7 linked regions of the Homo sapiens genome follow. The protein of the gene in region 1 purifies or fractionates together with the protein of each later gene. This does not show direct contact. Each region holds a gene or a part of one and is shown in the gene's direction. Other genes may lie near its edges. The genes, in order: NRP1, KCTD9, NIPSNAP1, TMX1, ARK2N, PDGFB and FAM241A.

Region 1 (4,321 bases):
GCTAATTTTTTGTATTTTTAGTAGAGACGGGATTTCACCACATTGGCCGGGCTGGTCTCGAACTCCTGACCTTGTGATCCACCCACCTCAGCTTCCCAAAGTGCTGGGATTATAGGTGTGAGGCACCGCAACTAGCCTCATCTTATACTTTTTCTGAACTTCTTATTTTGGGCAATTTCAAACATATTCACAAATGGAAAAGAAATAGTAGAATGAATTCTCTATGTGCACGACCCTGCTTCAACAATTATCAGATCATAGGAAACTTAATTTATGTCTGTCATCCCTGACTCTGAATTATTTTCAAACAAGTCCAAGCATATATTATGTCCCCTCGTTTATTTTACAACTAAAGAAACAATTCACAATGCTTGCTCTCTCCCGACCCTTGAAGGGGAGGTGGGGAAAGACGGTGTGGAATTCTTATTCACTGGGGAAAGATTGAAAGTGTAGTGTATTTCCTTTGAGCAGGTAGAAACCTCACCATGCCCTAGATCACAACCCTCCCACCACCTCCTGCCTTACTTTCTTCCTAAGATTAATTGGTGGGGGAGGAATGGGTTGGGGGACAGAAAAAGCTGGCAGCTTCTCCAGTGAACTCTATTATCTGCCCCCTTCCTGCTACCCACCTAGTCATTTCACTGCCCAACTTGAAGTACAGTATAAAGGACCAGCAGACTGGACGTGGTGGCTCACACCTGTAATCCCAGCACTTTGGGAGGCCAGAACAGGAGAATCAGTTGAGTTAGAGAGTTAGAGACCAGCCTGGGCAACATAGCAAGATACTGACACTACAAAATAAATTTTTTTTTTAAAATCAGCCAGGCATAAGGGCGCACACTTGTAGTCCCAGCTACTCAGAGTCTGTTTTAGGATCCTTTGAGCCTAGGAGTTCAAGGCTGCAGTGACCTATGATCACACCATTGCACTCCAGCCTGGGTGACAGAATTAGAACCTGTCTCTAAAGAGAAAAAAATAAAAATTAAAAATAAAGAAATAACCAGCCATGTCTGGCCCAACACACATGCACACACACACACATACACACACACACATATACACACTCACAACAAACGCCCAATCCATGAACTTCTGCACCCACTCAGAAATACTTACAGAGCACTGCTTGCTCAAGTAGTGGCTTCCCAAAAGGTACCCCAGGGGGGCATTTGCTGATGCTAGGAAATCTCATTAAATTCTCCCCATCTTGGCTCTTTGGGTGAGTGAGTCAGTGGACTGAAGGCTGGGCCAAGGGTACTTCATGCCTTTCCCATTTTGTGGTTCACTTTTCTCCCAGTGAATATAACCATTAAATAGGTTGAATAGGCCTCCTTCCACCACAGCCACCTCCTTGCCTAATGAGAATGACAAGGAAATTGGATAAAATTGGACTCCTTCAAATCTGAGACACTTTCAATTGAATCTTAAGACAGGCAGTTTTAGAAAACTTAAAATACTTTGACTGTAAATGGCACTGTACATATAAATGGCATCAAATTAACTAAATGCAATTAGCCAAAATGAAGGCAGTAATGGTGGAAAAATTGATGCAAAGTGAAGCAAAATGGCTCAGTAGGATCTGACATTCAAAGGAGGTTAAAAGCTATGTTAGCCAGAGACAAAAGCTAAAAGGCTTGCAGAAGTAAAGTGCTAATTGAGAAAATGAAGACAGAGTTCCTGACCCAGAACTGTGATAAAACCCTTGAAAGGGAAAATATCAGTGCTTTATGTGTTAGAGTATCAGAGAAGGAGAGCTTGTCGTAGATTAACAGCTGAGAAGTGCGATTCCTTCAGAAGGGTTTGACTCTTTTGTTCTCTCAGCCACCCAGATTTACTTGGCAGTTGTGCCAGGTCAGCTCCGACTAGAAAGAGCCCCTGCAGTTCTAGAAACACAATCATTTGTGTAGAGAGATGGGTGAGCCCGACATCTGAAAGGCAGGAACTACTTGTTAACGGGAAAAAGATCCAGATGAAAAGAGCCCTTCACGAAGCTCCCGCGCATAGACTGACATTAGAGAGTAGATGGTGCTTTTTTTATAATATTATTTGGTGAAACTTTGCAAGCCAGACATTGGGTTGTTTAAAAAGAAAATGAACACTAGCTAGGTAAAATATCCTGCTGCTTATCGAAAGGCATCCCATTTGCTTGGTTTTCTGCATTTGACCTCAAAGAATGGAACTAGGTACCTCCTTTCAGAGGATTCCTGAAGTCTGGCATCTCTCCCTGGTTCAGTGAACAAGTGGTATTTGAGAAGCTCTGTTACAGGGCAGATGCTGACTTGGGCACTGGAAATACACGTGTAAAGGAAGAGGTCCCTACGCTTGAGGAACTCGCAGTCTGATCATGGTTGGGAAGCAACCACAGTGCAGTTCAGTGAGGGCTTCCAATGGCAGAGGCCAGTGACAATGGACCATGTAAAAGATGACGGAAGAGGGGTCAAGGAAAGCAGCCCTGTCTCAGACACCGGCTGAGCTAGGCTTATTTTACTGGCTCATGTTTGGTGTGCTTTGCACAGGTTTTTGTATGGGAAGCAGTTAGATAGAGGCAGAGTGTGCATGACTTTGGGAACTACCTCCTTGCCTAATGAGATTGACAAGGAAATTGATGAAATTGGATTCCTTCCATTTTCACTGAGTAGAGCAGAAGTTTGTGGATCGGGTGTTTATTGTGAGTGAGTGTGTGTGTGTGTGTGTTTGGCAGGACACTGCTGGTTCTTTATACTATACCTTAAGTTGGTGATGCAGTGACCAGGAGGAAAACAGGATGGGGGTGGATAAAAGGTCCATTGGAGGGGCTGCCAGCGCTCCCTCTTTGTGAAGAAGTGTGGATAGGCTGCAGGCAGTGAGCAGCCTCTGAAGAATTCTAAGCAGAGGAGCAACACGAGCAGTTTTAATTTATATATATATATATATATATATATATTTAAGACAGGGTCTCTGTTGCCTAGGTTGGAGTGCAGTGGTGTGATCTTGGCTCACTGCATCCTCCACCTCCCAGGTTCAAGCGATTCTCCTGTCTCAGCCTCCTAAGTAGCTGTAGTCCCAGCTACTTAGGACTACAGCTATGTAGGAGCTACTACAGATGCCCGCCACCACGCCCGGCTAATTTTTGTATTTTTGGTAGAGACATGGTTTTGTCATGTTGGCCAGGCTGGTCTCGGACTCCTGACCTCAGGTGATTCAGCCACCTCGGCTTCCCAAAGTGCTGGGATTACAGGCGTGGACCACCGCGCCCGGCCACACGAGCATATTTAAAGACCACAGTGTGAGAAGGCAGGGACCATAAGAACTTCCTCAGGCAGAGGATTCTTGAAATCTGGCATCTCTCCTACTGCACTGAACAGGCATCATTTGAGAAGCCCTGTTACATGGCAGGTGCTGTGTTGGGCACTGGAAATACAGGTATGAAGGAGGGGGTCTCTGTGCTTGAGGAACTTACTGTCTAGTTGTGGATGGGAAGTGATTATGGTGCAGTTGAGTGAGGATGTCCTATGGGAGAGCATCCCTCTACCTACGTCCACTTCTCTCCTTCTTTCTAACACCCATTCTCTGACTAGCCTCAATAAACTTTGAGCAATGAGCTCAATAAGTGGGATTAAGACATGGCAGCAGCATTGCCAATTTCAGTCTTTTTTCCGTAAGATTGAGGGGACAGAGGCACGATGGGTGTATTTTTTTCCCATCGTGGTGGATTCATCACAGTGAAATGGCACCATCCCACAGACAAGTAATCACATCTTGATAAATTAGTGGGCAAAACAAATCCTAAGTGTGAATGGATCAGCTCAGTCACAGAGGACACCTGCAAGGTCAGAGAGCGAGAGGGACATTCATCCTGCAGTATCAAACCTACTGCTAGAGCTGCCATTTGTGAACACCCTTCCTTTATGATTCCACCCGTTGGTTTGAAGAAGGGCGGGCTCTCACATAAGCAACCAGGTAAGGAAAGGAAGCTGCCCATGAACACGTCCACATCCACCTGGACACTGTTGACACAGGCAAGCGGAAAGGAGTATGTGCCCACGTGTGCACAGTGAGAAAGCACCTTGCAAACACACAAGTCTCTTGGGCAACAAACACAACCTCTTGCTGCCCACTGAGGCCCGAGCAGCAGATTCACACTTAATCAGGTGAGGTGTTAGAGAAGATGATTTCTATTTGCAGAGCCAACAGTGAAACATGAGCTGTGTTGACCAGGTGGTGGCAGGAGGAAATGTTCCCAGTGGGGGTCATTAAAAGCGAAGCCAAGAGAAAGTCCTCGCAGTTCAGCAAGTGTCTAAGTTGCCAAAATGGCACGTTCTAATGAACCTCAACAAGGCAA
Region 2 (4,321 bases), on another chromosome or scaffold:
CACTGAACATTCAGCTGGTCTCAGGTCTCCTGTAAGAAGGGACGGCCTTCACATGTGAAAAGGTTAATAGTGTCTTCTTCACAGATTGGTTGTCATTGACATTGTGATATGGAAGCTTACAACCGGCACATTAAGATTTATATCTAGTTTTAACCAAATTAACCCTCACCAAAATGCCAAGTGATCTTAAAGGATTACTTCAAAGAAACTGCAGCTTGAGACAATATTAATTATGCAAGCACAAGTAAACAATGAGGAAATGGCAGAAGCTGCCACTTCTCCTAGTATGTATAAACCATGAGACTAAAAAAAGAGTGGGTCTCTTTGGACCTGAGAAGTTGAAACAGTGCTGAGTTTTAAAGAAGAATATTTGAAGTCCTATTTATTAATTGCTATTAATAATCAGCCTCTCCCTAAGTGTATGTTATTCTTTGAAATATTAGCCATTGATAGGATGAGTCATCCTAGTTAGCAAGATATTTAGAAATAAGTTCTAGTGCATGAAGACAAATGGCTTCAGATTTTTTTCTTTTCTGATTTTTTGGTTTTTGTTTGTTTTTTACTTTTATTTATTTATTTATTATTTATTATTATTATTTTTTGAGACGGAGTTTTGCTCTTCCACCCAGGCTGGAGTGAAGTGGCGTGATCTCAGCTCACTGCAACCTCTGCCCCCCAGGTTCAAGCGATTCTCCTAACTCAGCCTCTTGCTTAGCTGGGATTACAGGGGCTTGCCACCATGCCCTGCTAATTTTTGTATTTTTAGTAGAGACGGTTTTCACCATGTTGGCCAGGCTGATCCTGAACTCTTGACCTCATGTGATCCACCTGCCTTGGCTTCCCAAAGTGCTAGGATTACAGGCGTGAGCCACCATGCCCGGCTTATTTTAATGTTTAAAGTCAATCCTGTATTTGGCAGAATTTCACTAAATTTAATGATAAATATTTAGGAGATTCTTAGTGGCTAATTCATAGTCTGAGTCACTGAAAGTCCTCATCATTTGGGAAAACATGTACTTTCTAACAGTGGAATGTAGTTCATAAATACATAAATATACAGATGTTTGAGTACATGCCCAAAAGTATGTTACCAATGGGGTGTGTGGTCAGAAACATTTGAAGGCCTTAGTTCTAATCACTGGAATCTTTGGTTTAAATTTTGAGGGTTTTTTTTGTTTTTGTTTTTTAAAACTGCTCCGAAAGAGTCAGTTATGTTGTTTGTACCTGTCATCCTTTTTCCATGTGCCTCAACATTTTCGTTATTCTTTTTAATATTCCCTGTAAGAGTTGGCATTAAGGAAATTGAAATGGGGACTTGCACATCTGCATGCAGTGTGTGGCTTCTGAGCAACTTAATGTCAGTGCAGAGTTTCTATACGTCTTGAACACAGAGTGCTTTTTTTACTTCAGAATATTCAATAATGAGCTGTGCAAGTCCTAGGCCTTTTGTATACTGATTAATTCATCATTCATTCATTCATTCATTCAGTGAACACTTAGTAAATGCCTTCTGAGTATGTGGCATCATGCCAAACATGGCAAACAGGGTAGGAAATACTTTCATTCTGTACCGTGTTTTCATTCTTGGTCCAAGAAATAACTTTTCTTCAGGTTTTGGTATTAGGTCAGAAACATGTTGGGGGCAGGCACAATGGCTCATGCCTGTAATCCCAGCACTTTGAGAGGCTGAGATGGGAGGATTGCTTGAGTTCAGGAGTTCAAGACCAGCCTGGGCAACATAGTGAGATCCCATCTCTAAAACAACAACAACAACAAAGAATGAAAAAGAAATATGTTGTTAGTAGTAAGTATCCAGGTTTGAATCCATTACGTTGTTAGAGTTGGAGAAAGGTGAAAATTTATCTGAACCTCTGCCTCTGAAGGCTAAACATTAATAAGAACCTAGTGAGGGCCCACTTTTTAAGCTTGAACATTTCTTAATATATTTGATACATAGAAAAGAATACAATAAAGAATATACATAAAAAGAGGAACATAATATAGCAAACATCTGTAAATCTGCCAGATAACCCAAGAAGTAGCATGTTATCAATAACATAATGTGTTTATCCACGTTCCTGTACTCCTGTTTTGTTTTTCTCTTTGCCGTGTGTTTTTAAATAGTTTTGTCACATATATATGCATAACTAAATTACCTTTTTTTTTTTTTTTTGAGTCGGAGTCTCACTCTGTCGCCCAGGTTGGAGTGCAGTGGCATGATCTCTGGCTCAATACAACCTCCGCCTCCCGGGTTCAAGCAATTCTCCTGCCTCAGCCTCCCAAGTAGGTGGGATTACAGGCGCCCGCCACCATACCTGGCTATTTTTGTGTTTTTAGTAGAGACAGGGTTTCACCATATTGGCCAGGCTGGTCTCAAACTCCTGACTTCGTGATCCGCCAGCCTCAGCCTCCCAAAGTGCTGGAATTACAGGCTTGAGCCACCGTGCCCGGCCCTCACCTTTTTTTTTTTGAGACAGAGTCTCGCACTGTCACCCAGGCTAGAGTGCAGTGGCGCGATCTTGGCTCACTGCAACCTCTGCCTCCTGGGTTCAAGCGATTCTCCTGCCTCAGCCTCCTGAGTAGCTGGAATTACAGGCACGTGCCACCACTCCCAGCTAATTTTTGTATTTTTAGTAGAGATGGGGTTTCACCATGTTGGTCAGGCTGGTCTCGGCTGACCTCCTGATCTGCCCGCCTCAGCCGCCCAAAGTACTGGGATTACAGGCGTGAGCCACTCTGCCTAGCCACTAAGTTACATTTTTAAAAAATCAGCTTCGGGACATACGGTATCTCAAATTGATATTATACTGTATATAGTTTTTTGTGGAGACAATGTCTTCCTATATTGCCCAGACTGGTCTCAAACTCCTGGCCTCAAGCAGTCCTCCTTCCTCAGTCTCCCAAGGTGCTGCGACTACAGGCATGAGCCATCATGCCAGGCCAGTCCTTGCTTTTTTCGTTCAATATAATTCTCTTCCAACCATAATATCTGACATAGTGATAATTTATTCATTTTTACTGCTTTATTAAAGTACATGTTATACAAATACTACCATGATATTCCTGTCAGTGGACATTAGGTTGTTTATTTTCTTTATATTTTGTTGTTAAATTGACAGTGCTGTCATGAATATTTCTGTATATGTATCCTGGCACACAGCAGCAAGCATTTTTCTAGGGAGGTAGTTAATCAAACTTTAGCATGCATCAGAGTCACTTGGAGGAGGAGGAGGACTTGAGAAAACTGCTGGACTTCATCCCCAAAGATTAATATTCAGTAGGTCTGGGGTGGGGTAGGAATGTACATTTTTAATTTGCAGGTGAAATGTGGTTCAGATGCTGCAGGTGACAGGATCACACATTTGAGAACCACCACTCTAAGGTATAGACACATAGTTGTAATTATTGGGTGTTAGAATATGTAAATATTCAGTTTTGCAAAATAATGCCAGATTGTTTTTCAAAGTCATTGCAGTAATTTATATTCCCACCACCATTGCATAAATCTTCCCTATTGGTCCACATCCACTCCAACACTTGATATTACCAGTATTTTCCATTTTAAAATTTTCTTTTTTCACCTTAGAGTTAATTATCTCATCTTTTTTTTAAATTATCTCATCTTTTAAAGAATAAGATCATGTAAATATTTAAAATGTATTTGACTAAAAGTATAGGTAGAGAAAATTGAGTTCTGTATTTAGTTACTAGTGGTGATTAGTGGTTTTGTTGGGTAAATCAGCCTGCATAAATTCAACAATTTATGTGTATTGTATATTACATAATGCACAATAAATACTTGTGTATTTATCATAACAACTTTTTGCAAATTAATTTTTTTATTGGACCTTTAGGATCCAGGCAGACAGCCAGATTAGAAAATATTTAGTGATATGGTAAATTGTTTTTGATACTTTATTAGGATTGATTAAAGTGGCAATAAAAGTTGAATTCAAATACACAAATACTTGTGTATTTATTGTGTATTATGTAATAAATCTTGTGGGTATAAAAGAAAAAAATATTTTACATGCATGTGCAGGTTTTAATTTTTAAATTTAAATAATACAGGTTACAATTTGAAAATGGTGTTTAAAGGTAAATTAAAACTAGCCAATCGTACTAGGCATGGTGTTCCATTTACTCTCCAACTCATAGGCAGCTTTCACTTGTCATGGGATCTGAAATTTAAAAATAATTGACTCTGAAAAGTAGTATAATACAGACATCATGAACTTTAATAGACATGCTTCTCAATAAATGTAAAATGCTTCTATTCTTAGGGCCTAAGTTGTTAAGGTAGATAATCCCAGTGACATGG
Region 3 (4,321 bases), on another chromosome or scaffold:
AGGGAACTCTTTACCTTCTGCCCCTCATGGATCTGGGAGAAGGATCCAGCCAGGAGGTGAGGATCTCCTAGAAGGTTGTGACCCCTCCGTTGGTAGAACACCCCGCCATCAGTCCTTTCTCTCAGCATCCCGGAGGACCGTGGGTTCCACCTAGGCCCCTCCTGTGAAGTGTGGCCAAGGAATCAGCCTCAGTACCCTCTGCACCAGCCCTGGCTTCTGCCCCATATTATTGTGCCTTCTCCAGGGCTCGGGCCATCAAGTACCGGCAGGAGAACCAGGAGGCAGTGGGCGGCTTCTTCTCACAGATAGGAGAGCTCTACGTGGTGCACCATCTCTGGGGTAGGTTGAGGACCTTCCAGGAGCCTTTTGTTAGTTCTCTTTCTCTGTCATCACTCTCTGTAGCCAATGGGGTTGTATTAGTGTCCTCATAGAACTTAATGTTCTAGCAGGAGACACTATCTTAGATGTAAAGTCACAAAAAGATCAATTTCAGATTACAAATAATATTTATAGAAAATAGGCAAGGAGTCTGGGAGCGGTGGCTCAAGTGTATAATCACGACACTTTGGGAGGCCGAGGTGGGCAAATCACAAGGTCAAGAGATCGAGACCATCCTGGCCAATATGGTGAAACCCCATCTCTACTAAAAATACAAAAATTAGCTGGGCGTGGTGGCGCATGCCTGTAGTCCCAGATACTCGGGAGGATGAGGCAGGAGAATCAGTTGAACCCGGGAGGTGGAGGTTGCAGTGAGCTGAGATCACGCCATTGCACTCCAGCCTGGCAACAGAGCGAGACTCCGTCTCAAAAAAAAAGAAGAAAAAAAAAAAAGGCAGGGAGAGATGATGGTGAAAAACATAGGGGATCTACATTGGTCTAGGTAGACAAATAATGCCTCTCTGAGGAAGTAAAATGTAAGCTGAGAGCTAAAGGATGAGAAGGAGCCAGCTGTGAATTGCTAGGCAAAAGCATTCCAAGTAGACAGAGCAGCACATGCAAAGGCCCTGTGGTGGGGAAAGGCCTTCGGGGTTTTGAGGTGTGGCAAGGAGGCCAGTGTGGAGTGAGTAGGGAAGAATGTGGGGAGATGGAACAGGAGAGGGGGAATGAGTTGGGATTTATTGTAAATGCAATGAGAGACTATTTGTTTCAAATAGCAGTGACACGACCTGATTTTTGTTCTAGTATGATTTCTCTGGCTGCTGTCTGCTTTGTTAAGAGTGCTTGGTAGGCGAGCAAGAGAGAAAGCAGGGCTTCAGGAAGCCATTACTCTAGTTCAGGCAGGAGGGGATGGGGCAGTGGGATGCTGAGAAGTCCACAGAAGATTTGTTAGTCTAGAGGTGGAACCAACAGGACTTGTGGATGAATTGTCTGTGTGGGGCAAGAGAAGGAGAAGGGCATTCCAGAAGAGCTCCCAGGCTCGTGCTTGAGCTGCTGTGTGTCATCTCCTGAGTCTGGGAGGTCTAGGGAAGGAGCAAGTCAGTGGGGTCAGGAGCGTAATTTTGGCCCTTGGAATTGTTACTTTTTTTTTTTTTCTTTGAGACACAGTCTTGCTCTGTCACCTAGGCTGGAGTGCAGTAGTGTGATCTCAGCTCACTGCAACCTCCGCTTCCCAAGTTCAAGTGATTCTCGTGCCTCACGCTCCTGAGTAGCTGGGATTACAGGCATGCAGTACCATGCCCAACTAATTTTTCTATTTTTAGTACAGAGTTTCGCTATGTTGGCCAGACTGGCCTCGAACTCCTGGCCTCAAGCAGTCCACCAGCCTCGGCCTCCCAAAGTGCTGGGATTATAGGCATGAGCCACCGCACCTAGCCGGAAGTGTTAACACTAAAAATGCTGACACACCAAAGTAGAGATGTCAAGTAGGCAGTAGATGGATATAGGAGTCTGGAGCCCTTGGGAGTGTTTGCGACTAGAAATATAAATGTAGGCAATATTAACATATGTACTGATTGGATGGATGATTAAAGCAGACAGTGTTTGCTAATAGTCTGAGGGAGGCATCTAGGGAGGAGGAGACAGCAGTGCAGGGTTTAGGGGACAGTGGGAAGAGGGCCCTGTGCTGGGTAAGGGATCCAGTCCTCTGTGCCTGAGGAATGAGCCTGTGCCTTTCTCACAGCCTATAAAGACCTGCAGTCTCGGGAGGAGACTCGAAACGCTGCCTGGAGGAAGAGAGGCTGGGATGAAAATGTCTACTATACAGGTGAGTGAAGCCTTTGGAGGTCTTCTGCTGAGAACCCTGTCTGAGGATGGAATCCTCTCTGCAAGGAGATCTAGTCTTTCTTGATTACCTCCAGTGATGGGGAACTCACTTTTAAGACAATGAGTTAATGGGTTTCTATCCAAGTGGCACACTCCATAGGATACCAGCAGGCCTAGGTGAGTACTCTAGGGGATGATAACATAGCCAGGGCCACGCCTCTGCCTAGGAGATGTGGATTAGCAAACGCCCATTGTGACCTTGGGCACGGTTCTTTACCTCGCTGAGGCTGTTCCCTCGTCTGTAAGATAGTGATGGTGATAGTGCTTCTGTCAGAGGGCTATAACGGAAGATTCTACAAACTATTTTATTATTTTATATTTTATTTTATTTTATTTATTTTTGAGACACAGTCTCACTCTGTCACCCAGGGTGGAGTGCAGTGGCATGATCTTGGCTCACTGTAGCCTCCGCCTCCCAGGTTCAAGCCATTCTCCTGCCTCAGCCTCCCGAGTAGCTGGGATTACAGGCGTGTGTCACCATGTCCAGCTAATTTTGTATTTTTAGTAGAGACGGGGTTTTATCATGTTGGCCAAGCTGGTCTCGAACTCCTGACCTCAGGTGATCCGCCTGCCTCGGCCTCCCAAAGTGCTGTGATTACAGGCATGAGCCACCACATCTGGCCCACAAACTCATTTATGAAAAGTGCTTTCTCCAGTGTCTGTCACAAAGGAAGCATGCAGGAAATGTTTTTGAATAAGGTTTTTGTTTTTGTAGAGATGCAGTCTTACTATGTCACCCAGGCAGGTCTCAAACTCCTGGGCTCAAGCAGTCCTCCCACCTCAGCCTTCCAAAGTGCTGGGATCATAGGCATGAGCTACTGTGCCCAGCCTTGAACAAGTTTTTTGCTCAAGGTGTTTGCCACTTTGCTAGGAACCTGAAACCACCTAGAGTCAGTGGGTGTTAATTAAGCCCTCACTGTGTGCCGGGAACTGTGGTAGGTAGGTGGTTGAGGGGCACATAAATGAACAAGAGCCTGTCCTTGCCATTGAGAAGTTTACAGTGATCACTTACCAGGTGGTATGAGGGAGAATGTGTCTGCTGAAGGAGTTAGCAGGAGCCTTGCTATTCAGTGTGGTCCCAGCTGGGTATGGTGGCTCACAACTGAAATCCTAGTACTTTGGGAGGCCAAGGCAAGAGGATCACTTGAGGTCAGTAGTTTAAGACCAGCCTGGGCAACATAGGGAGACCCCATCTCTACAAAACATTTTTTAAAAATTAGCAGGACGTGGTGTTTCCCATCTGTAGTCCCAGCTACTTGGAAGGCTGAGGTGGGAGGATCACTTGATCCCAGGAGTTTGAGGCTGCAGGGAGCCATGATTGTGCCATTGCACTCCAGCCTGGGCAACAGTGAGACCCTATCTCAAAAATAAAAAATAAAAATAATAAAAAACAAGACAAGCACAGTGGCTTACACCTGTAATCCCAGCACTATGAAGTTGAGGTATGTGGATCAATTGAGGCCAGGAGTTGGAGACCAGTCTCGGCAACATGGTGAAACCTCGTCTCTACTAAAAATAAAAAAAATTAGCCAGGCATGGTAACTCAAGCCTGTAATCCCAGCTACTCGGGAGGCTGAGGCACAAGAATCACTTGAACCCAGGAGGCGGAGGTTGCATTGAGCCGAGAACCTGCCACTGCACTCCAGCCTGGAAGACAGAGTGAGACCCTGTCTCAAAAAAAACAAAAAACAAAAAAAATCAAGTGTGGTCCCAACTGACAGTATTGGCATCCCCTGGGAGCTTGTTAAGAATGACAAATCTCGGCTGGGCGCAGTGGCTCACGCCTGTCATCCCAGCACTTTGGGAGGCTGAGGTGGGCAGATCACCTGAGGTCAGGAGTTCAAGACCAGCCTGACCAACATGGAGAAACCCTGTCTCTACTAAAAATACAAAATTAGCCAGGCATAGTGGCACATGCCTGTAATCCCAGCTACTCGGGAGGCTGAGGCAGGAGAATCGCTTGAAACCGGAAGGCAGAGGTTGCAGTGAGCCGAGATAGTGCCATTGCACTCCAGCCTGGGCAACAAGAGTGAAATTCCATCTCAAACAAAGAAACAAA
Region 4 (4,321 bases), on another chromosome or scaffold:
AAATTCACCCCTACTCCCTTTACATCTATATAAATTTCTGTTCGCTGTCTCCATAAGTGCTTCTGTCCTGCCCTTCTCATTCAGTCCTTTTCCCCACGTGCCCCTTCAGTCTCTCCCTTTGCTTTTCACTTCTTAGTGCCCTGTGACCTTATTTGGAATTTCCTGCCCTTTTTCTTTTAGTCAAAATTGTTTACCATATCCTTTCTCCTGTTTCCTGCCTGTCGAAATCTTACCTATGCTTCAAATAATAGCTCAAATGACACTTCACAAAAACTTTGTGTTTTGGGGTGGGGGGCTTCCTCGTGGTTTTTACCTCTGAGTGGATAAAGGGTCCCTTAACCCTACTTAACAGGTCCCTAGTAGGGAGCTGATGAGTTTTTGCACTTAAAGATGTTGGAGCCAAGAGAACATTTGTGACTCTGACAGAACTTTCTACATTGGGAATGGGAAGGAGGAGGTGGATCTAAGGAAGGCTGCAAAGCTCACTAAATAGTCACTGAAATGAGAGGAAGGGAAGCACCATACCAGATGCCTCCAGTGATTTAAAGCAGGGTGTCTGAGGTGATGCTATTATAGCCAAAAGTACTAGAAAAATGCCTTAAAATTTTAAGTTATAGCTTAACAGCTAATAATTACTATGTGCCAAGCACTATTCTAATAATTTTTATATAATTCTTTTAATATGTGTATTACACATAAGGCTTAAAAGTACTTTCCTGAGATTTATCTACTTACTGTATTTCATAGTTTCATTACTTGGAAGAATAACAGTAATTACATTTTAAGGCTTATGATTTAAAAAAATGTAACCTCATTGTTAAATTGGGGGCTAAAATGTCATGAGTAGGTAAATAGTATAATTTGCTATTAATACTTGTACATTGCTAATGCTTTTGAATGTTAGAATTGACTGTAAAGTGAAGTGAAAAAATAGCAAAATAAATATTAAATTATTTCTCAGTGCTGGATAATATTTAATTCTGATTCTCTTTAGTTGTAAAGATGGTGAATTTAGGCGCTATCAGGGTCCAAGGACTAAGAAGGACTTCATAAACTTTATAAGTGATAAAGAGTGGAAGAGTATTGAGCCCGTTTCATCATGGTTTGGTCCAGGTTCTGTTCTGTAAGTATGAGGGCTTTTTCTCTTACCCATTTCATAATTAATTGGAACAGATAATTATATTTTATGTAAAGCATTCATACTCAGTTTGTTTCTTGAGCTGTTAAGGTATATCCACATTTATTACATGTTTGATTTTTTTTTTTTTTTTTTTTTTGAGATGGAGTCTTGCTCTGTCGCCCAGGCTGGAGTGCAGTGGCGCAATCTCGGCTCACTGCAAGCTCTGCCTCCTGGGTTCACGCCATTCTCCTGCCTCAGCCTCCCGAGTAGCTGGGACTACAGGTGCCCACCGCCACACGTGGCTAATTTTTTTGTATTTTTAGTAGAGACGGGGTTTCACTGTGTTAGCCAGGATGGTCTTGATCTCCTGACCTCGTGATTTGCCCACCTCGGCCTCCCAGAGTGCTGGGATTACAGGTGTGAGCCACTATGCACGGCCTACATGTTTGATCTTTTTAGTTTGACCTTCTAAGTCAAACATATTTTCATGCTTCTTGAGTTAGAGAAGGCATTTTATAGAAGTAAGTTGTACACCTTTTCAGGAATATTTTAGCTTGCTAGATTTGGTCATATGTATCATCAAAAACTAAATGCCCCTAAGAGTCTTCACAGTGTAATGGGTAAAGCTATCACTCGAGTGTAATAATTTGAATGAGTAGGCTCAAACTTGTACTCATGCTACCTCCAGACTTCAATTTGTCTTTTAATGTTCTGTCTCCATAGAGACCGTCAATAATTGCCGATACCAACTAAATTAATTACATAAACTTCAACTCTTGATGTCAAGCGACTGAATTATGTTTGGTTGGTTATTCCACCTGTCTGATAACTTCTTATATGAATAGTGTGTATAAACGGTGACCGTAATAGTGTGCCTAAGCACTGAGCTTTATAGATATCTAGAGGGTAGATGAATTTCCTCGTAGCAACTGGCTATGGAGTGATAAGGATTGGAAGTAGCAAGCATGCTTTCTGCTTTGCTGTTGGAGTACAAGGCCTCACTGGTCATGTGAGAGACCTCTGGGAACAGTGAGTTTTGCTGAGGTCACCATGGACTGATCCTGTGTGGCCATCTGTCTCTTCCTGTCCTCTCACCACACTTACCTTTGGAGGATAGGGAGTTGGGACAGTAATCACATAAGAGAAAAATGCTCTAGATTCTGGGGATGGGAGAAAGATTAGCCCTGTTAACACTCACCCATTGAACTACCATGCCCAACTCAATTTTGGATCCTACTGTTTCTGAAATAAATTACTGCAGACTACAGTGAGGCTATACAGTGCTTTATGTTTCAGTTCCTTGTTTCTCTTCTCACTTGGCTTTTAAACAACAGAAGCAACATGATTAAAATACCTTTCTGTGTCGAACTAAAAGTATAACTGATTTTTGTTCTCTGAAATCTCATCTCATAAATGAATCTTGTCCTTCCAGTAGAAGAAAGTAGTTGCTTGTAAGTCTATTTTCAAGCAGCTACAATTGGGAACTCACAGACCTTTCTTATTTCTGAAACATGCCTTTTTAAAACTGGCCATTTAATTATGTAAAATACTAATTTTTGCTTATATGATGACTTAGCATTTATTTCCTATGTAATAATTTTGTATATCATTAAAAGATGTCAAACTAATGCTCTTGTAAATTTTAATTAATTTCAATAAAAAAGAGGGATAGTTCTTAAATGGAAAGAATTGGCTTGACAATTGTTTCCAGTCCTTACTTTAGCCTCCCTTTGGTCTTGCTTTGAAGGCTTTTAAGGGTGAGTAAGAGTTGCCTTTTCCAACTGGTTTCATGGAACTTGTAACCCTTTACTCAGTGTATTGGAGAAATCATCAGATGAAATACAAAATATTAACATCAAAACAGTGGGAGAAAAGGAAAAAAATACTGTCAAGTATTTTTATTTATGAGGCTGTCACATGGTAGTGTCAATTTAGAAACAGTTTTCATGAAGAAGGCTTATTACAGGCATGAAATCAGTGATGTGTCACTAGTCTTGATTAACAGCAATAAAATCTGTCATATTGGGGAAATTATAGAGTAGAAAATAGTATGTATAGACAAATCTGTGTATGTTACTCAGTTTTTTAATCATCTCTTTTATTTTTAGGATGAGTAGTATGTCAGCACTCTTTCAGCTATCTATGTGGATCAGGGTATGGACTAAAATATTTTTATCTTAAACATTTTTACCACTATCACTTTAACAAAAATGAACAGATTTTTAGTTTTTTTTTTTCTTTTGATTTTAGACTTGCCATAACTACTTTATTGAAGACCTTGGATTGCCAGTGTGGGGATCATATACTGTTTTTGCTTTAGCAACTCTGTTTTCCGGACTGTTATTAGGACTCGTAAGTATTTCATTTTTGGAGTGCTAGGAAGAAAGATATTTAAAAATGTGATTATTTAAAATAGTTACATTAGCTGTGGCATATATTCTACATTCAGATTTCTTACAATGTTTATTTTTACAGTGTATGATATTTGTGGCAGATTGCCTTTGTCCTTCAAAAAGGCGCAGACCACAGCCGTACCCATACCCTTCAAGTAAGTATATTTTAAAATGTTTATTTTTTATTCACGATAGTCCTATTCATTTCTGTAATCACAATCACACATTTCACAGGTTGCTCTTCCAGCTTAGAATTCTAACTGTGGATTGTTGGTCTTTATCAGCTATGGCATAAAGGAAGGTAGAGGAGATGTATATTTCATATAAGAATGTAGCCCAGTGGATTTTGGAACATTGTTATTTTCTTGACTCTTATATTATGGGGAATTTTAACATTGCATATAGCATGTAGCTATTTAATAATATTTATTTGGTGTCGTTTTATAAGTGGAGTATATTCTACTCTTGAAGTCTTTCATTAGTATACCGGCCGCCACATTTGAAGATTATTCTTTGAATGCCAGCCAACTGTAAGTTTTTTCTGGTAGGATATTGGGAAAAGCAATCCCTATAGTTGATTTAGGATGCCACTGACACTGAACTGTACTACAGAACAATTTAAATAATTACAAGCATTTACCAATCTTGTAATTGTACTGTTAATGGAAGCATTTATATTTGCAGTTCTTAAAGAACTTTTACTTATCTGTTACCTCGTTTGCTCTTCAGCACCTCTGTAGTAGAGTGCATAGGTGTTACTGCTCCCATTTTGTACTTGAGGAGACTAAGGTTCACAGTCACACAGAAG
Region 5 (4,321 bases), on another chromosome or scaffold:
AGTGTAAGTTAAAATTTTAATGGTTAATCTGGGTCCTGTCTTTCCCTTTCACAACAAAATAGCAAGCCTAGTTATTGAGCAGACTATTCAGGGGTTCACTTTAATCAACAGCAGCATCTCAACCCAGGTCCACAGCCCCATCCCATTTAGGATCACATAGGTACGCACTAAAGATAGAGTAGGTTGCCTTTTTCCAAGCAATTAGATGATTATCTTGCATCCAAAATATATATTTAGTTTTAGTTTTAACCTAGGCAAAAGACTTGAACCACATGCAGGGATTAAAAAGTAAGTCGAAATTAGAGAAGCTACTGATCAACAAAAGACCTGAATTTTCCATTTCAATTCTTGCCATGTGTTTGCTTTTTTTAAGTTGATGCTGGAATTGAACACTGTAGTGGGTGATTTTGAACCAGTGGCCACTTAGAAACTGCATGTCCTCAGGTAAATTATATAAAGCCTCAGTTTTCCCTATCTACAAAACTGGGGCACAACCTTTATAGTATCTACTCCAAAAGGTTATTGTTACCACTAAGTGAAATACAGTGTGTTTACTACGGAGGACAGCACATAGTAGGCCCTCAGAAATGCTAACCAGCATTATGTTAATATGCTGAAGTAGACTGAGTAAGGAAGTGATTAGTGGCTCAGTCACTGGATTTCTAATTACTCTCTTGCACTGCAACGAGTTGCTCTTGCTACAAGTACTTCTTAAATTTTGCCAGAGCGTAGAAATTACCCAGTGTGTTTATAAATATTCACACTCCTAGGTTTCTCCTGATGATTCTGTCAATAAATCTGAAATGGTTTCTGGGAATCTCTTTTTAATAATAGCCTCAGGTAACTCTTGTATCCAGCATGTTTAGGAAACTGTATTAATATATCTGAAAATGGCTTCATTTTTGTTGCTAGTAAGGGCTCACTGCAAACAAATGTAGTTGGGGCAAGAAGAAGCAGAAGTCTTGGTGAGGAAGGCTTATAGCTGTGGTAAACTGAACTTATTTAGGATTTTTTTCCCTGGGAAGTTAAAACTTTAAATACCTTATCTTTTCCATCAGCCTTCTTGTCAAGAAGGTAGGTTCTGAGCATTTTCCCCATCCTTACAATAGGGATGGTAATCTTGATTTGTCCCTAACATGGTGGCAGTACAGAGAAATGAATCCTGGGTTTCCTGTTCCTAGTGTAGGGTTTTTAATAATTAGACCAGAATGGCCATGTTTCAGAATCAGTATAGTGAAGGAGATGAAGTATGGTCATGTTCTTCATGTTTATCTGCATCAAATTGATGGTAAGAGTTTAGATTTTTTTTTTTTTTTTTTTTTAAGAGGGAGTCTCCAGTCACCCAGGCTGGAGTACAATGGCACATTCTGGGCTCACTGCAACCTCTGCCTCCCGGGTTCAAGTAATTTTCGTGCCTCAGCCTCACAAGTAGCTGGGATTACAGGTGTGTGCCACTGCGCCTGGCTAATTTTTGTATTTTTAGTAGAGACAGGGTTTACCATGTTGGCCAGACTGGTCTCGAATTCCTGACCTCCAGTGATCCGCCTGTCTTGGCCTCCCGAAGTGCTAAGATTACAGGCATGAGCCACCACACCCAGCCAGATTTTAGATTTTTGAGCTCTTCCTTCACTCTTTTTTGTTGTTGTTGTTGGAGATGGATTCCAGCTCTGTCGCTCAGGCTGGATGCGGTGGCAGTCTCCGCTCATTGCAGCATCTGCCTCCTCGTTCAAGTGATTCTCCTGCCTCAGCCTATCCAGTAGCTGGGATTACAGGTACCCGTCACCACGCCCCGTTAATTTTTTTATATTTTTAGTAGAGATGGGGTTTCACCATGATGGCCAGGCTGGTCTTGCCCTCCTGATCTCAAGTAATCTGCCCACTTCTGCATCTCAAAGTGCTGGAATTTCAGGCGTGAGCTACCATGTCCAGCCCTCTTCCTTCACTTTTTAAGGTTGTTTAACGTGCTGTTTAAGGAACTAAAAGTAGGCTGGGTGCTGTGGCTCACGCCTATAATCCTGGCATTTTGGGAGTCCGAGGTGGGCAGATCACGAGGTCAGGAGTTCGAGACCAGCCTGTCCAATATGGTGAAACCCCATCTATACTAAAAAAAATACAAAAATTAGCTGGGCACGGTGGCGTGGGCTCCTGTAGTCGCAGCTACTTGGGAGGCTGAGGCAGGAGAATTGCTTGATCCCGGCAGGTGGAGGTTGCAGTGAGCCGAGATTGCACCACCTCTCTCCAGCCTGGGTGACAGAGTGAGACTCTGTCTCAATAAAAAAAAAAAAAAAGAAAGAAAAAAAGAACTAAAAGTAGTAATTTGCTGTTTTTAAAGCTAAATGAGTAGTGACTTATTTTTTTATTTTTTTTATGCCTAGCATGCGACTGTCATACAGTATGTAGTATTACTTTCTCTTCAGTGTGTTGCAAAGCTCAGGCCTAGTTCTTACCCAGTGGATTTACAGTTTAAAAAGTAGCTGGATTATTTCCTTTAAAGACAGAAAGAAACTGTTTTCCATGATAATTTAGTTACTACTTTTTCTGTGCTTCTTTTTCTTACCCTATTTTGATAACTACCTTTTCTTGGTAACTTTTTCTTACCCTTTCTTGTTGAAAAGGTCTGTAGTGGGAGGACAAAATTTAGAATTTTCTCATATAGTGAAAGAAGTTATCTTTCCAAAGACCTACACAGGCAGAGACCTACACAGAGACAGCCAGCTGTCACAATAGCTAAATATAAGTGCTCTGCTTTATTTTCAGTTTAATATATGGTAATTGCGGTATTTACATTTTTCTCTACAGGGCTTGTTCTTGTCTTAGAACTGGAAAAGATTACTACCACTGACAGTATTTGAAGAACCTCATAGCATCTTTGGCTCACTTTTCTGTATGCTTTAGGCACTGTTCTGCCATTGGAATCCTGTGAAGTCCTCCATGGGGGGTGAGGCGGGGTGGGGAGGGGCAGAGCAGAAAAGGCCCAAAGGCCAGAGAATGTCAGGTTCTATACTGGAGCTCCCAAAGGAATGTGTGGGATGCTGAAGAGGGTTACAGTGACAGAAAAGGACTAATGGTCCTGGCTCTGAAATAGAAGAAGGAAGAGGCAGAGGCATCCCAGAATGCCTTTGGTGTCTCTTGTAGAGCACGGCATCTCATTGCCTTGGTGTGGGTCCTAGCTGATTTGTTTTCTGTGTGGCACAATTTATCTAAGGCTCTGACAGGAAATTTGGCAAATGTCTCACACTATTAGTCTAGGAGTTGTTAACATTCACGAGGCAGTCTGTATTTAGCACCCCCATCACTTTCTCATGCCTCTTATCTTGCACTAGTATATTGACCAAGCATTACAGATAAGAGCAGACCCTAGGCTAGGCGCGGAGGCTCACACCTGTAATCCCAGCACTTTGGGAGGCCGAGGCGGGTAGATTACCTGAGGTCAGGAGTTCGAGACCAGCCTTACCAACATGGCCAAACCCCGTCTCTACTAAAATACAAAATTAGCCTGGCGTGGTGGTGCATGCCTGTAATCCCACCTACTCAGGAGGCTGAGGTGGGAGAATCGCTTGAACCCGGGAGGTGGAGGTTGCAGTGAGCTGAGATCACATCTTTGCACTCCAGCCTGAGCAACAAGAGCAAAACTCCATTTCAAAAAAAAAAAAAAAAATAGCAGACCCCAATTTAAAGTGACCAGTTTTAGCATATCATCTGGGTTTTGTAACCATGTTAAATACCAGCAGGTTTGGATTGCAATTTTTATGGCAAAAATTGCACTACCAGAATTGTTTGGATTATCTAACAATGTGGAAGGAATATTACTAGTTTCTAGATCCATAATGAATGAATAAAGTTAGAAGAATCTGAAATATTGGTGATGGTACCTTGTTTTTTTTTTAAAAGACAGTATAAAATTAACAAAAGTAGCATAGTAACTTTTCGTTTCATAAAAAATAAAGTGATGACATTTCTAGCTCTGGAATAAGGCTATTGGAGGTAGTAAGGTGAGGATGGCAGGGTCCTAGTCAGTGAAGACTGGTTATTCAGAAATATTGATGACAGATATTTCACAAAACATTCCTGCTAGAGAGGGTAGAATTATAAATTAGAACGATGGTTATAGGAACCGAGCAAAGAGATACTAAGAATTAACTAATTCCATCATATTCTTGTTGTATTTTCTTAATTACCATTGTTTAAAAGCATTGAGTGATCAAGGAGGAAGAGTTTGGTTATAGTGATCCTGCCTGTCTACACTCTGCCTTTTTAATTTGGTTTAATTAATTTCATTTATTTATTTTTAGGATCCCAACAGGCTGAACCCCTTACTGTG
Region 6 (4,321 bases), on another chromosome or scaffold:
TCCAGGGCAGGGCCGAGTCAGCAGGCGGGTTGGTACCTGGGACTTGGGGTGTGGCAGGAGAAGCACCCACGTGTGGCTCCGGCTTGGTGCCAAGGGTGGGGTGCCAGGAGGAGGGAGGGCGGGGAGAAGGTGCCCAGGGCATCTGCCGAGTATGTCTCCAGGTGTGGGCCCAGCCAGGGAGGGTGGCACTGGAGGAGTCATCTCCCCGCCCCTCTGGCTAGGGGCCCGGTCTGTGAGGTCCCCTGGGGACACCTGGCCTCGACCAGCAGGCAGCCCTGCCCGTGCCCCAGAGCTCACTCAGCGAATGGGCACGTGCTCGGTGGCACACACGTGGCGGGGCTGGCGGGCTGGATTGACAATGTATTTATAAACGCTGTCTTCAGAGCAAATTCCATTCTATTCTAACCTCTGGCCTGTTCCCTGGAGCCCTGGTCAGCAGCCCCCCTGCACCCCCAGGTCCCCTTCCCTCTGGGGTTCTGTCTCTTTGTCACTTTGTAATCCTTGCCCAGACGCTATCTACGGGGGAACAGCATTTCCTGCCTTTGTTTCCTCTCCCCGTTGGGCCCCTGGCTCCCTCTCAAAAGCATTCCCGGGCCCTTTCAATCCCGCCTGTGCTGGGGGGCGGTGAGGCAGGCAGGAGGGGGCCCCAGCTGGGCCCACCTATTGTTCGCCAGGGCCCCCACCCGATGTCTCCCACAACCCCCACCCTATGCCCGACTGGCCGCCCCTGGCCACACACAATGGGGCAACTTCCAAATTTAGCCTTTCTACCATTTCTTTCCAAGCCTTTACACCCCCACCCTCAGACGGCCCCTCCACACCCCTGGTGGGGGTCGGGATCTTGGAGATGAGGTTTCAATAGCAGGCCTGTTTCAAGGCAACCATGTGGCTATTTTTTCCTAATCAACTTAACCTTTCCACAAAGCGCATCTTTTCCCCATCTCCTCCCCACCAGGGACATTCCAGAGATGGCAGGGAGAAAGGAAAGGAGCCAGAGGGACAGATAGGCTCGTTGACGTAGGGGCTGTCAGGCTGGACGGAAGCGGACTAGTCATCAGACTCCCTGCAGTACCCGGGACGGACAGGCGGCAGGCGCCTTTGTCTTGGATGGGGCCAGTGGGTCGGTGCCAGAACTGGAGCCATGGGGTGCTGTGTGGAGGTGGCAGGAGCGTGTTCCCAATGCCCCTTAGTTTATTTGTGGCTCCTCACCCATGAGAGAGACAGAAGGGTCTGTCCACGCCTTAACATCCAGCTCAGAGGCCTCCCTCAGCCCTCACTTCCCAGCAGCCAACCTCTGGCCATGGGCTCTGGAAAGGACCGATGTCTCCAAGGAGGGCTGATGGGACTGAGATGGTGCCCAGGCTAGAAAAGGGAGCTGTCATTTGTGACCAGAGGAATCAACAGACGGCTGGGGGCAGAGGTGGGGCAACAGTTTAGAGAAGGGGAGGGAGACAGACACAGATACAGATACGGTGTGAGGGCCCCGGAGCTAGAGAGACCAGGCCCTAGAAGGGTGTGTGGCAGGGACTCCCCACCCCCAGCAGGCCCAACTCCCACCCCTCTTCTCCTCTTCTCTGTCTTCAGCTCCCACCCCCATCCCTCTCCCTCCCTCCCTCCCTCCGTGGCTCCCGCCTGCCCAGCGCGGCCATTGTCCGGGGCTCCAGAGGGGCTGTGTTCAGGGCATGCGGTCCCCCTGGGGCTTCTGGGAATTTCTCCATTCAGCACTTCCTATGGGAACGCTGGGTGGAGGGGCACTGGAAACTGGCCTTCAGTGCCCTAGGTCCCGGCCCCGCCCTGGAGGCCGAGGAGGGTTCACTTACAGTAGCAAAGGGGAAGGGTTATTTTTAACTCCACTGACATGGGTTCTGGCCAAAAATGTTGGCTAAAGAGCCAGGGATGCAGTCAGGATCCTGGGCCTGCAGCTGTCCTGGGGGCTGCTTGGAGGGTCCCTGCTCAGGGCCAGGACCCGTGCATTTATGGGGGCTGGAAGGAGGGACTGTTCTCTGGAGTGGGGGAGAGGCAAACCTCCCGCCTGCCCAGACACCCCGGCGGAGGGAGCCCCTGCCCAAGGTGGGGCCGCCTGGTGTCTGACTGTGACTTCTCCTGCAGAGGAAGATGGGGCCGAGTTGGACCTGAACATGACCCGCTCCCACTCTGGAGGCGAGCTGGAGAGCTTGGCTCGTGGAAGAAGGAGCCTGGGTAAGACTGAGACACCCAACAAGGGTCCTTCAAATTAGCATGGGGGCCAGGGAAAGAGAACGGGGGCGGGCAGCCAGTCGGAGGGCCCCGAGGGTCCTCTTACAACTCCCGTTCCCCCCACATTCAGGACTGAGCGAACTGAGAGAGTAAAACCATCCTTAAATGCCTGTGTTCAGTCATCACAGCCCCTCGCCCCCACACTCTCTGGTTTCTAAATATAGTGCTGCAAAGCTCATTCGTTCCTTATTTCAATCCTGGAGGTAGATATTATTAACCCCATTTCACAGAGTTGGAAACTGGGGCCCAGAGAGGGTAAAGAACTAGGCGAGGTCACACTGCTAGGGAGCGGTAGGGCTGAGATCCCAACCTGCTCCCCTCACTTGAACCCAGCGTGGTCCCTGATGGGCTATGGGTATCTCCTGTGGCAAAGGGCCGCGGCCTAGGCTGGTAGACCTCGAGCAAAGCCTGGAACTTCCTCCTGCTCCCTTGCAGAGACCTAAAGGAGACCGTAGATCATTAGGTCCCAGAGAAACCCTCCCAGGTGAGGCAAATGTCCACTCAAACCCCTCCTCCTCTTTGACACCTGGAGTCCCCAAAACACTGCAGTTAGAGGCTGGGGGAACGATGAATAAGAGTCAGGTGGCCTGGGCCGGGCATGGTGGCTCACGCCTGTAATCCTAGCACTTTGGGAGGCTGAGGCAGGCAGATCACGAGGTCAAGAGATGGAGATCATCCTGACCGACATGGTGAAACCCTGTCTCTATTAAAAATACAAAAATTAGCTGGGCGTGGTGGCAGGTTCCTGTAGTCCATGCTACTTGGGAGGCTGAGGCAGGAGAATTGCTTGAACCAGGGAGGCGGAGGTTGCAGTTAGCCGAGACCACGCCACTGCACTCCAGCCTGGCGACAGAGCAAGACTCCGTCTCAAAAAAAAAGAAAAAAGTCAGGTGGCCTGAGTTCCACCCCCAATCTATGAATGTGGGCGGACGGGATATTCAGCTCTCAGAGCCTCCTGTCCTCTGTACATGGATAGCATCGGTAACCTCAGTGCTTGCTGTAGGCAAGGCTTACTCACTTTACACCTTAGATCCACATGGGAGGGAGGTGCTGTTATTATCCCATTTCATAGAGGAGGAAGCTGAGGCTTTGAAAGCAGCAGTGATGCAGGAATCCAAGGCACCGTGAGACAGCAGTGCACGCGTGGTTTCGAGCTAATATGGTACCTGCATAAAAACCACATGTTGGGCAAGCCCATAAATGTGTAAAATCATAAAGAAGAATAAAATAGTCATGTGCCAGCAGAGGGAAGCGGACATTTACTAAGCATTTACAACATGCCCCACACTCTGAATTTTCTCACTTGAAACTACAGTGGTTCTTGGGTGTAGATCTCATGGTCCCATTTTCAGATGGGGAAACACAGGCTTAGAGTGGCTCAGCCATCTGCCCAAGTCCCATGGCTAATGACAGCCAGGACTTGAAACCTGAACCCTGGGGTTGAAGGGCGTGAGAAAGAGCAGTCCCGGAGGCACCCGCTGAGCTCCCCTGCCAAGTGGGGGGACTCTGGACAGGCCTACGCTCCTGACCCAGGTTTCGTCTCCTCCCAGGTTCCCTGACCATTGCTGAGCCGGCCATGATCGCCGAGTGCAAGACGCGCACCGAGGTGTTCGAGATCTCCCGGCGCCTCATAGACCGCACCAACGCCAACTTCCTGGTGTGGCCGCCCTGTGTGGAGGTGCAGCGCTGCTCCGGCTGCTGCAACAACCGCAACGTGCAGTGCCGCCCCACCCAGGTGCAGCTGCGACCTGTCCAGGTGCGTAGGCTCCGCGGCCCCCCGAGGCTGGTCCCGGTGGTGGGTGGAGACCACCCTTCTGGGGCTCATACCTGACCAGGCTTCCTTGACTGGGCAGAGTGGTGTGTCGAAGGACATTCCTGATTTGTTCCTGGGCTCTGTCCAGAGAGGCCCACTCTTGGGAAGCTCTTCCTAGGCAGGTGGACTGAGGCCGACCATGAGTCCTCTGAGGTGGCTCAGGCCACTGTAGCCAAAAGCCACAGACAGACCCCCCGGGCTGGGCGAGGTGTGGAGCCAACGTGAAGTAGGGATGTCACCTCCTTTACAAGG
Region 7 (4,321 bases), on another chromosome or scaffold:
TCTTATTAAATGCAGATTTTGATTCAGTTGGTTTGGAGTGAGGTCTGAGATTTTGCATCTCTACAAACTCCTAAGTGATGCTGATGCTGTGCCCATGGACCACATTTTGGCAAGGGAATGGAGAATAAGCAAGTCAATATACTGTATTCACCACACTTGCCCTTCAACATAGTATCAGTAATATATACATATGAAGTTGTTTAACTATTTTCTTAGAAGTGTATATTTAAACTCTTGGTAAAATATGAGAAGCCAATAGTTGTTCCCTAGGCCACGTTATTTGCTGTAGGTCCTACAGCTAACTCATGCTAGAGCAGACTAGAACCCAGGTTTCCGAACACCAAAGCTAGTGTTTTTTGTTTGTTTGTTTGTTTCACAAATACAAAAAGCACATTACATGATGGAAAAACAGTCTGACAAATTTTCTGCCCTACTTTAGATGGTGTAGTTCAAAACTAAATATTAGTTTATACTCACTTCCTTTCACGTATTTTAAAAGCAGTTTGCAAGCAATATTGTAATAAGTGCTATGAGCTTAGTTGAATTCTGCCCTAACTTAATCTCATCTTGTTCCTAAGGACATCCAGTCACTAGAGTAACTCAGGGAATAATTTTGCATTTGATAGGCATCTTTTGTTCATTTTTTTAAATCATCCAGACTGGAACTTCTAAATCAGTGGTTCTCAACTGGGGGCCTTTTGTCCATAGGGGGCATTTGACAATGTCTGGACATTTTTTTATTGCTGAAACTAAGGAGGTGGTACTGACATCTAATAGGAAAAGGCCAGGAATGCTGGTAAACATCGTATAATGCCATAGTCCCCTACAGCGAAGTATTATCTGGCACAAAATTTCAATAGTGCCAAAGTTGAGAAACAATATTCAAAATATGTAAGGGTTACAGTCCTTTGAGTTGTCAAAAGTAATTACTCTGATAATAGATATTCCAATAGATAGGTTAAAATTGTTTATTTGCTTGAAACCTGTATTTTAAACAGAATTTCAAACTTTTCTCTGTGTCTCTTCTAGCAGCTCCTCGTATGCAACTTGCTGTATTTTGCTTTCTCACACATTCCTTTTCTGCCTTTCTTTCCTACCACCCATCTCCTTTCTGTCTCTGTTGAGTCTCGTTCTCTCATGTGTTTTTTCCCTCCCCACGCATCTCAACCACTTTCTCTTCTTCTGCATACATCTTCCCCTACCTCTTCCACTTCAGTGCAGAAGCTGAGCATTATGAAACAATGAAAAGGGGGTTGAAGTATGACAGATCTAATTTTGAATCCCGGTTTTACTCTTTATTAGCCCCCGTGATCCTGATTACTTAATCCGTCAGAGATTCAATTTCCTCATTTGTAATGGGTATGATGCTACCCACCTCTTAAAGTTTTTATGAGGATTCAGTCTCATTTTGTATGTAAAATGCCTAACACATGGAGGCACTCAATAAATATTTGCTCCTTATTTCTCCCTCACCTTTTCTATTTTTCTTCTTTTTCTCTGGTTTTCCTCCCCTTATTTCCCTCAACTAACACATCATAGAACTGTGTTTTTAGTACATGTAATTCTCAAATTTATAGAATATTTATTGAACAAAGTGTTAAGATTGTGAAACAATGTATCTAATGTTTAGAATAGACAATCTCTAAAGAAAAAATTAAACCTGTCAACCTAAATTATGTTGTTTTTTATGTAGATCTCTAGTTGGTTTCTTTTCCCCCTTGTTGCTCACTAATCCTTGAGAGGAAAAATACCCACCTCCTCTGTACAAACTATTCTCAGTTTCCTATTCAAAAGAAGTGATAAGGCAAGATTAAAAGGAAAAACTCAAAGTACCATGACATCAGTCTTGCTGTAACAGAAATATGTAGAAATTCTGTGTCTCTATTCATGTGTTCTTTAAGACTTAGCAACACTGTCTTCATTTTCTGTCTTTTCTGGAGTCATAATCTTATCTTCCAGTAACAGCCACCTATCTCCGAAAACCTTGTTCCTACTAGTTATGTTTTATTTCATTGTGTTTATGTGTGTTTGAGAGAATTAATAAGACATTTGAAATGTAGCTTCTTTTGAGCAGATAAACCGAGTTTCTAACCAACCTGATGCAGAAGATACTTTCTATCTTCTGATCTTTTTCCCCATACCCAGTGTTTCCCCCGGCACCGCCCCCAGCCATTTAACTTCATTGGCAGCTGAGTCTTATCTTGGCATAGGAAGAGGAAGTGATTGGCTTTATTTCTTGCTGTTTTCTTAGGGCAACAACTGCAGCTTATCAGAGTTCTAATCAAAAGGAAAGCATGGTACAAATGTTTTTAACTTTATGGAAAATAAAGGATAAAATTATCATTAATACTTAATATCTAAACATAATGTTAAGAAAGTTAAATTCCCATTGTGGTTTTTACAGTATTTATTTTCATGTAACTTTTTAAATATCTGTGTTTGAGAATTTCTTTTATTTCCTCTTCCAATTAATCCAAAATAATTTAATTTTTGTTTTGTATCCTCTTAATTAAATTTTACTTGAATGTCTGCAGATGGCCTACAGAGGTAGGGAATTTAAGTTTGATGTTGCATGATTGCAAATTCCATCAGTCTGACTGAATTGAGGATTTCTTATTCCATGAGTTTTAGAGGTAATAACAGCAGAAGCGAAATTTTCACTGCCACAAATTGAGAATTGAGAAGGAAAGTCATTTTTCAGGAGAGATATTTGATTTTGACTACTTTTTTCCCCTAAGTTTGATACTTTATTTTTTAAAATTTATTTCTTATTTTTTTATTTTTGAGACAGAGTCCTTTGTTGCCCAAGCAGGAGTGCAATGGTAGGATCTCAGCTCACTGCAACCTCCACTTCCCAGGTTCAAGCAATTCTTGTGCCTCAGGCTACCGAGTTCCTGGGACTACAGGTGCATACTACCATGCCTGGCTAATTTTTGTATTTTTAGTAGAGATGGAGTTTTGCCGTGTTGCCCAGGCTGGTTATGAACTTCTGGCCTCAAGCAATTTCCCTGCCTTGGCCTTCCGAAGTGCTGGGATTACAGGCATGAGCCACCGTGCCCAGCCTGGCTACTTTTAATGGATAAGTTTACCCATCTTGTAGTAGCATCTAGCATATTGTCCTGCATATGCAAGGTACTAAGTAATGTCACCAGAGATTTCATATTTTTTTTTAAAAAAGTAGATTCTTGAAAAAGTATAAAATGTAGAAATGTCTTAACCTGCAGTTTGAAATCAGAAAGAGGCTTGAGCAGGGTGTGGTGGGTCATGCCTGTAATCCCAGCACTTTGGGAGGCTGAGGTGGGCGGGTCACCTGAGGCCAGGAGTTCGAGACCAGCCTGGCCAACATGGCGAAACCCCGCCTCTCCAAAAAGATACAAAAATCAGCCGGGTATGGTGGGGAATACCTGTAATCCCAGCTACTCAGGAGGCTGAGGTAGAAGAATCGCTTGAACCCAGGAGGCAGAGGTTGCAGTGAGCCAAGATCGCAAACTGCACTCCAGCCTGGGCGACAGAGCAAAACTCCGTCTGCGCCCACCACCCTCCCCCGCCACAAAAAAAGAGGCTTGAGTTAGGCATATTCTTGAGTTCGTGGCCCACAGTTATATATCATTAGTTCATGAAAAGCCCTTCTCTTATTTAATTATTTTTCCATTGCATAACCATTTCTTTCTCTACAATAGGCAGCTGTTCCAATACGTCTGTTAGATATTACTGAAATTGAGTGTATCTTTTTGACTACCTGGTGGTTTCATTTGTGTGTCTGCAATTATGACTTATAATTTTAAAAATATTGAAGCCCGGTAGTTAAAATGAAAAATGAATGCAAATTTTGGTATTTTTCTGTTTATAATCATTTCAAAGACTAAGTTCTAGTTGATATTCTCATTGTTTTTATCCATCCCCTCAAAAAAATCTTTTTTCTTTTATTGGGTCTATGTAGTTTAGTGGGAGGTAAGTATAAAACAATGCTATAATTTTTCATTTACTGATAAGTGACAAACAAGTTATAATGATAAGTTATAAATTATATAATATAATATAATGCTATTATTAGATGAAGCCTTATATAGGTAGTACATTTTTACATTTAATTTATATCATTTTTTAACGTTTTGTAGGAAATGAAAACTGCAACTTCATGTAGAGTCCAATAAATAGAAAAATATGTCCAGCCTCACTATAAAGAAAAGAAATGCAAATTAAAACAATTAGGAATGATTTTTTACCTATCAAGTTGTCAAAGATTAAAAAGATGAATGGTGTGGGTTTAGAGATATAGTGTATAAAATACTATATTTGGCTATATGAGATATAGTGTATA

The links.
Region 2: the proteins of NRP1 (region 1) and KCTD9 purify together in Homo sapiens (co-immunoprecipitation; 3 studies listed by BioGRID and IntAct, with this or other methods). This does not show direct contact.
Region 3: the proteins of NRP1 (region 1) and NIPSNAP1 purify together in Homo sapiens (affinity purification with mass spectrometry, with the first as the bait; one large-scale study listed by BioGRID). This does not show direct contact.
Region 4: the proteins of NRP1 (region 1) and TMX1 purify together in Homo sapiens (affinity purification with mass spectrometry; 3 studies listed by BioGRID and IntAct, with this or other methods). This does not show direct contact.
Region 5: the proteins of NRP1 (region 1) and ARK2N purify together in Homo sapiens (affinity purification with mass spectrometry; 2 studies listed by BioGRID and IntAct, with this or other methods). This does not show direct contact.
Region 6: the proteins of NRP1 (region 1) and PDGFB purify together in Homo sapiens (affinity purification with western blotting, with the first as the bait; 2 studies listed by BioGRID). This does not show direct contact.
Region 7: the proteins of NRP1 (region 1) and FAM241A purify together in Homo sapiens (affinity purification with mass spectrometry; 3 studies listed by BioGRID and IntAct, with this or other methods). This does not show direct contact.

Annotation. Positions count from the first base shown.
Region 1 is NC_000010.11:33,187,513-33,191,833, reverse strand, and holds part of NRP1 (neuropilin-1 isoform a precursor), read left to right. Parts: intron 1-4,321. UniProt on the Homo sapiens protein: Cell-surface receptor involved in the development of the cardiovascular system, in angiogenesis, in the formation of certain neuronal circuits and in organogenesis outside the nervous system. Mediates the chemorepulsant activity of semaphorins.
Region 2 is NC_000008.11:25,451,506-25,455,826, reverse strand, and holds part of KCTD9 (BTB/POZ domain-containing protein KCTD9), read left to right. Parts: intron 1-2,251; exon of another isoform or gene 2,252-2,283; intron 2,284-4,321. UniProt on the Homo sapiens protein: Substrate-specific adapter of a BCR (BTB-CUL3-RBX1) E3 ubiquitin-protein ligase complex, which mediates the ubiquitination of target proteins, leading to their degradation by the proteasome.
Region 3 is NC_000022.11:29,556,752-29,561,072, reverse strand, and holds part of NIPSNAP1 (protein NipSnap homolog 1), read left to right. Parts: intron 1-244; coding exon 245-339; intron 340-2,119; coding exon 2,120-2,203; intron 2,204-4,321.
Region 4 is NC_000014.9:51,246,098-51,250,418, forward strand, and holds part of TMX1 (thioredoxin-related transmembrane protein 1 precursor), read left to right. Parts: intron 1-994; coding exon 995-1,123; intron 1,124-3,228; coding exon 3,229-3,274; intron 3,275-3,370; coding exon 3,371-3,472; intron 3,473-3,595; coding exon 3,596-3,668; intron 3,669-4,321. UniProt on the Homo sapiens protein: Thiredoxin domain-containing protein that participates in various redox reactions through the reversible oxidation of its active center dithiol to a disulfide and catalyze dithiol-disulfide exchange reactions.
Region 5 is NC_000018.10:46,243,301-46,247,621, forward strand, and holds part of ARK2N (protein ARK2N), read left to right. Parts: intron 1-4,321. UniProt on the Homo sapiens protein: AMPK substrate important for exercise capacity and skeletal muscle function.
Region 6 is NC_000022.11:39,231,313-39,235,633, reverse strand, and holds part of PDGFB (platelet-derived growth factor subunit B isoform 1 preproprotein), read left to right. Parts: intron 1-2,109; coding exon 2,110-2,199; intron 2,200-3,806; coding exon 3,807-4,012; intron 4,013-4,321. UniProt on the Homo sapiens protein: Growth factor that plays an essential role in the regulation of embryonic development, cell proliferation, cell migration, survival and chemotaxis. Potent mitogen for cells of mesenchymal origin.
Region 7 is NC_000004.12:112,151,505-112,155,825, forward strand, and holds part of FAM241A (uncharacterized protein FAM241A), read left to right. Parts: intron 1-4,321.